2 linked regions of the Homo sapiens genome follow. The protein of the gene in region 1 interacts with the protein of each later gene in a pairwise test. Each region holds a gene or a part of one and is shown on either strand. Other genes may lie near its edges.

The links.
Region 2: the proteins of SPANXN2 (region 1) and GPRASP3 interact in binary tests that used the Homo sapiens proteins (3 or more experiments, as listed by UniProt).

Annotation. Positions count from the first base shown.
Region 1 is NC_000023.11:143,711,454-143,714,634, forward strand, and holds the end of SPANXN2 (sperm protein associated with the nucleus on the X chromosome N2), read right to left. Parts: intron 1,047-3,181; coding exon 582-1,046; 3' UTR 502-581; downstream 1-501.
Region 2 is NC_000023.11:102,727,213-102,730,744, reverse strand, and holds part of GPRASP3 (G protein-coupled receptor associated sorting protein 3), read right to left. Parts: intron 1-3,532. UniProt on the Homo sapiens protein: Survival and differentiation promoting protein that plays a role in the regulation of neurosynaptogenesis. Induces phosphatase PP2A activity which results in APP dephosphorylation and inhibits BACE1-mediated processing of APP.

The sequences.
Region 1 (3,181 bases):
CAACTTCCGCCTCCTGTGTTCAAGTGATTCTCCTGCCTCAGCCTCGCATGTAGCTGGGATTACAGGCACCTGCCACCACTCCCAGCTAATTTTTGTATTTTTTTTTTTTAGTAGAGACTGGGGTTTGCCATGTTGGACAGGCTGGTCTCGAACTCCTGACCTCAGGAGATCGTCTGCTTCGGCCTCCCAAAGTGCTGGGATTATAGGCATGAGCCACCGTGCCCGGCCAATACAGATCTTTTTAAATGCCCTTCTACATATTCACATGCTCCAAACACCAAGTCCTTTTCTTCCTCTCCTGTTAGATAAAATTTTAAGAAGAAAATTTGTCTCTAGGAATAAGTCCTCCCCCAGGCCTTATTTACAATGTCTGGGAAACTGTCAACCTGTGGGTCTGTCCGCCAACCCTACAGGATCTCATATCCTTCCCTTCTCAAATGCCTACCTCTTCCCTTCCCTTCCTTCCCACCATCAGACAACAGGCAGAGATATACACGGTCATCAGCTCCTCAAACTTGATTTTATTGTAATCATCGCCATTGGTAGTGAGGATTTGTCCAATTTGGTTTCTCCATGTTTGACTAGTCCTCCCCACCCTCCTGTGAAGATCCTTCAGATGAGTCTAGGTCTTCGTCCTCCTGTGAAGATCCTTCAGGTGGGTCCAGGTCTTCGTCCTCCTGTGAAGATCCTTCAGATGAGTCCAGGTCTTCGTCCTCCTGTGAAGATCCTTCAGATGAGTCCAGGTCTTCGTCCTCCTGTGAAGATCCTTCAGATGAGTCCAGGTCTTCGTCCTCCTGTGAAGATCCTTCAGATGAGTCCAGGTCTTCGTCCTCCTGTGAAGATCCTTCAGCTGAGTCTAGGCCTTCGTCCTCCTCCTCTTGGACTGGATTGATGGAGTTCTCTCGGGACTGGTCCTTCTCCAGTTGATTTGAATTTATTTTCGTATGCTTCCTGTAGTAATACACTATTATTGTTAGATATTCTATTGTTTTTGTCTTTTGCAAGCTCTGTTTGGGGGCTAAGACCCTGTTCGGTGCCTCCTGCATCTGATAAGAAAACAGGGAGAGGCCAGAAAGTCATTATTTTGGGTGAATAGGGTAGAGACTGGATAGCAAGGGGGGCTTTATGAGAAGGAATGCAGGTTGAGGAAGGGGTTTGTGCCAGAGAAGAACAAGGTGGAATCATAGGGTAGTGATCTATGGGGAAGAAGAAGAGGAGCATGGGTAGGGTCATCTGTTAGTCCAAACTGCACGATTTCGCAAGTTCTTTGCTATTTTGCAGACCTTGGTCAAAGTGAGACACTCCATGGGGGCTCAGGCCGTGAGAAACATCCTGCCTAACCACCTGACCACAGGGCGGACAAAGGCCCAACTAAAGAAACATTCCTATCATATCTTGCTTGGCAAAGTTCTAAGGAACGCCACAATGATATTCCACTGGAAAAAGGGCCAAACCACCTGATCATAAGAACATCTTATCAATATCCTGCCGGATAGCATCCCACATTGCCCAGATCCCTCCTGCCCATCCCTGTAAGTACCCCAGCCTGTAAGCGGCGGTGGGCTCTGGCATTAAGCTTGTCCTCCACTTCCATAGGTGTCTGCCATATTCCTGTGTTGCTGTTTGAGCTGCCCCCTGTGTGTCTTTCTTTCATCCTTGCCTTCCCTTCAAAACCTAACATTTTGGTGCCAAAACCTGGAGTGGTGATTGGGTTCTAATGGGTAAGTTTTCTCTTGCAACCTGGAAAGCAGCAAGCAGCACAAACTAGACCAGGGCCTGCTTCCAGATCCTGAGTGTACTCCCTGTTCCCAGTCCCATTCTCCTTATTCTCTAGTCTTCTCCAGACCTGGGCTAACCTCCAGATAGTGATCAAACAAGCCACCTTATTTTTTGTTCCTTCCTGTTTCCGGGCAGCTGCAACAAGGATCACCCCCATTTCTGGACATCACATCCAACACTGGGCTTCAATTAGTGGGTGAGTCTCCCTCTTCCTCCTTTCCAGATTCCTCTCTATTTCTGCCCGTTCTCCAAAAAATTCCAGTGCTGGGTGAGAGGTCTCCCCAGTCACCAGGTGACTGCAGCCTCCCTTCTTAGGGTACACCTTCAAAACGTTTGCCACTCTGGCTGCTCTGGCCTCTGGGGAGCATGAATAGTACGGGGCTGCCCCAACTCTCCAGGTCCCTTCTCCCAGGAGGAATCAAGTACTCACTTCCCTATGGGGTATTCACTTCTCTCTGGAGTACTCGCTCACCCCTGGGGTACTCACTCCCTTCCAGGGTACTCACTTTCCTCAGGGGTAGTCACTCCCATCCAGAGTATTCACTCCCCTCTTCCAAAAAACAAAACATTCAACTTCCAAATTCAACATAATCTAAAAAACTTTCTTCAATGCAATGGTAAATAATCTGAAGTGCTTTGCTTATCTCCTTTCATGCCTCACTCTCTCTCTCTCTCTCTCTCTCTCTCTCTCTCTCTGCCAATCTTGTTCACCTTTTCAAATCTTCCTCCTCAAGGAGAAACCCCCCAAAATGCCTCTTCCTCCGGACAAGTCTTCTTCCTCTGAATTTCAACCTGGCCAACACACCCGTTCTTCAGCCTCCTGCCCTCTCCCATTCCCTCCACCTTCTCCTTCGGATCCGGCTCCTCCACCCCCTTACTGTCGCCCTCCATCCCCCTTCCTTCTCCACCTCAAACCAGGTCTCACACCCAACCCCCTTTCGCTAGGAACCAGGCACATGCCCAAAGGCCTTCCAAAGTCCTTCCCTTGCAGGAGGTTGCGAGGGCTAAAGGCATAATCTGAATTCAAGTTCCCTTCTCTCTAGCTGAGTTTTCCCATATTGAAAGGAGACTTGACTCCTTTTCAATGGATCCAACCTCCTTCCACAAGGAATTCTTGTACTTCCCTAAATCTTATGACCTTACCTGGCATGACATATATGTCATCCTCTCCTCTACCCTCACCCTGGAGGACAGGGAACACATCTTTATGGGTGCCCAGGTCCATGAGAACACCCTCCACCAACAAGATGCTGCTCATAATCCAATAGGGACCCTAGCTGTCCCCAGAACTGGCCCCAGTTGGAATTATCAGGCAACTTCAGTAGACAGACAGAAATCAGGCCATATGATATCATGCCTTCTAGCTGGCATAAATAAAGCTGTCCCTGCTCGTTTCCTCTCC
Region 2 (3,532 bases), about 41 Mb from region 1:
AAAGTGCTGATTTACTGTGAGCCAGAGGAATACAGAATTGACTATTCCTGTTTCTGCTCCTTTTCCCTTGCATCATGTGGATTACTGTACCCTCCCTCTTCCCCTCTAGCCTGCTGTTTCCATTTAAATATTGAAGCCCTCAAAATTATCTTTGGATAAAGGCACAGACCACAGACTGTTTCTGTGATTCCATGCTCTTTTCTTCTGGGAATGTCTTCACCTTGGCAAAATAAACTTCTAAATCAATTGAGACATGTCTTACATACTTTTTAGTTTACACTATTGACCTATCTTCAAGCTCAGGAGTCCCCAGCCCCTAGGCCACGGACCTGGACCCGTCCATGGCCTGTTAGGAACTGGGTCACACAGCAGGAGGTGAGTGGCGGGCTAGCCAGTAAATCTTCATCTGTATATACAGCCACTCCCCATCACTTTCATTGCCGCCTGAGCTCCGCCTTCTGGAAGATCAGCAGTGGCATTAGATTCTCATAAGAGCACAAACCGTATTGTGAACTGCACATGTGAAGGATCTAGGTTGCATGCTCCTTATGAGAATCTAATGCCTGATGATCTGTCACTGCCTCCCATCACCCCAAGATGGGACCATCTAGCTTTACAAAAACAATCTCCGGGCTCCCAGTGATTCTACATTATGGTGAATTGTATAATTATTTCATTATCTATTACAATGTAATAATAATAGAAATAAAGTACATAATACATGTAATGCACTTCAATTGTCCTGAAACCATGCCATTCGCCCCCCAGTCTATGGAAAAATTGTCTTCCACGAAATCTGCCCCTGGTGCCAAAAAAGATTGGGGACTGCTACTCAAGCTTGCTGAGTCTTTCCTCAACTGTGTCCAGTCTACTGATAATCCCATCAAAGGCATTCTTCATTTGCTGGAGTGCAGTGGCACAATTTCGGCTCACTGCAACCTCCACCTCCCGGGTTCAAGCGATTCTCCTGCCTCAGCCTCCTGAGTAGCTGGGATTACAGGCACCCGCCACCACGCCCAGCTAATTTTTGTACTTTTAGTAGAGATGGGGTTTCTCCATGTTGGCCAGGCTGATCTTGAACTCCTGACCTCAGGTGATCTACCCACCTCAGCCTCCCAAAGTGTTGGGATTACAGGCGTGAGCCACTGTGCCTGGGCTCTGTTACAGTATTTTTGATTTCTAGCATTTCCCTAAATATTCTTCTCAGGGAGAGTTTACATTTTGCAGCTCTTTTAACTGTTATTCACTGTTATCCACTATTATTATAATAAAGCCTTGTTAGCATGGTGGTGAAGTGCAGAGGAGAGGAAGTGTTCTATAATATTATGATTAAATTTCAGTCTTTTGTGGGCCTGTGTCCCTGGGCTTTGATTTTCATAAGAGTTTTATTTTAGCGCCTTTCTCTCCCTTACATGAGACTAGAAACCTAAAGGGGGCTGAAATAGGAGAAACGCCTTTCCCTCAGCTGAGATAAGGCTCTGATAAAGTCTTTTCCACCACAGAATAGGCTTTTTTTTTAAAAAATGAAGAAGGCTCTGGGTGTATTTCACAAAAGTACAGTTCCCTTCCCACTGCAGGGGCCATGAGGCCCTTCACTGCAAGAATATGGTGGGTTTCTTGGAAGTAATGCCCACAAAAGTGTGGGGACCTCCCTGACTGCAGATCCTCAGGGGTTTCTCACTCTCATATTATTCCACACTCAGTCTCCAGCAATTCATCAAAATTACATTTAAGTGCTCTTACCTATTTATGTCTCTAGCAGTTTCTGTTCTATGAAAGAAGAAATAGGCTGTGACTCTCTGGATTTGCCTTCAGAATTTGGGGTAGTCAACTGTCCTATGCCTCAGTTCTTTGAAGAATCTAAGAAATGTTGTTGATTCTGTTTGTTCAGATTTTTTTCTGGTTGTAAGTACAGGAGCAATGACTTACAAGTTCTTACATGTTGGAACTGAAACTGGAAGTCTGGCTATGGGTTTTAACAGGGAAGCTAAAGAGCAGTGAAAAATAAAAAATAAAAAATTTAAAATGGGCTGGGTGTGGTGGCTCACACCTTTAATCTCAGCACTTTGGGAGTCCAAGGTGGGAGGATCGCTTAAGTCCAGGAGCTCAAGAGCAGCCTAGGCAACATAGCAAGACCCCCTCTCTATTTAAAAAAAAAAAAAAAAAAAAAAAAAAGCAGTGCACATTGCTTTTGTCTGCTTCTTTTCTGCTGAACATCACATCTGGGAATTAGGTTGCCCTGGAAAACCCAGCTGCTCCATAAATATTAGCTCTTTTCACTCCCAGGTACAGGAAATTTATGGGGCTCCCTGAACCTGACATCTCAGCCCAAAAATTTGTAATGTGCAATGCAAATTAGACTTTTGACCTCCTGAATCAAAATTCCTGGTAATGGCCATGCACAATGGCTCATGCCTGTGATTCCAGCACTTTGGGAGGCCAAGGTGGGAGGGTCACTTGAGTGCAGGAATTCAAGACTGGCCTGGGCAATGCAGTTATACCTTGTTTCTACAAAAAATCTTTAAAAATTGAAAAATATATATATTATTGGTAATGAAGTCTGAGGAACTGTAACTTAATGCTAGGAGAGAAAAGTTGTCTATGTCACTACCACCACCACCACCATCAAGAGGCAGTGCATGATACTATTAGAATCTATAGTTTACATTAACTGCCTAATGATTGTTAAGTGCTTGCTTAGACTAGAGTAACTAGTTTCTGAGCCCTGGGAGTACATTCTAAAGGGAGTTTGTACAGAAGAGTTGGGAGTACCCAGATTTCAGAGCCAGACAGTCCAAAGTCTGAATACAGACTTTGTCACTATTTGTGTAACTTTAGCAAAGGTACTTAACGTCTTTATAACCCAGTTTCTTCATCCTTAAAAGGGAGCTGGCATTAACTACTTTACAGGATTATTGTGTATACTGAGAAAACTATTTGATATCCTGCACAACATGTGTATATCAGATCTTTCTAGTTCTTTTAAAATTTCTGATCTATTCCTATTATGGAGTGGGCTGGAGAAAGCAAGAAAGAATAGATGAGAACTACATGGTTTTTAAAGGTCATAATTGCTAAGTCAGTGTCACTGTGCTCTTTGTGCTGTAGCCTCAGTGCTTTGTATATTCTGTGTTGCTTACCATAACCCTTTACTAAAAGGATGCCATTTTTGCATAGTTGCCACTGCAGGTTACTGACTTTCTCCTCCTTTTAGTCACATGTCACAGAGAGGCTAATTCCATTTCCAAGAGTGAGTCTCTTTGGTCTACGGATAATCTATCCCCTTGGTACTCTCTTGTTTAGGAAGAGGCATTGATCAAATTCCACTCAATGTGACATTAGGGGAAGGTTACAGATGGACTTCTGAGGAAAGTGTCCTCATTCATAAGACAAAGTCATCAGAAAAGATTGTCTTTTCTTCTTCCTCAGGAAGTTGCTTACCTCCTGGAATTGTTGTAGCCATCAAGCTATCAGCCTTAGGACGGAAGTTGATATTGTGAATGGCAGAAGAAAGAGACGGAAAAAAGCTGAG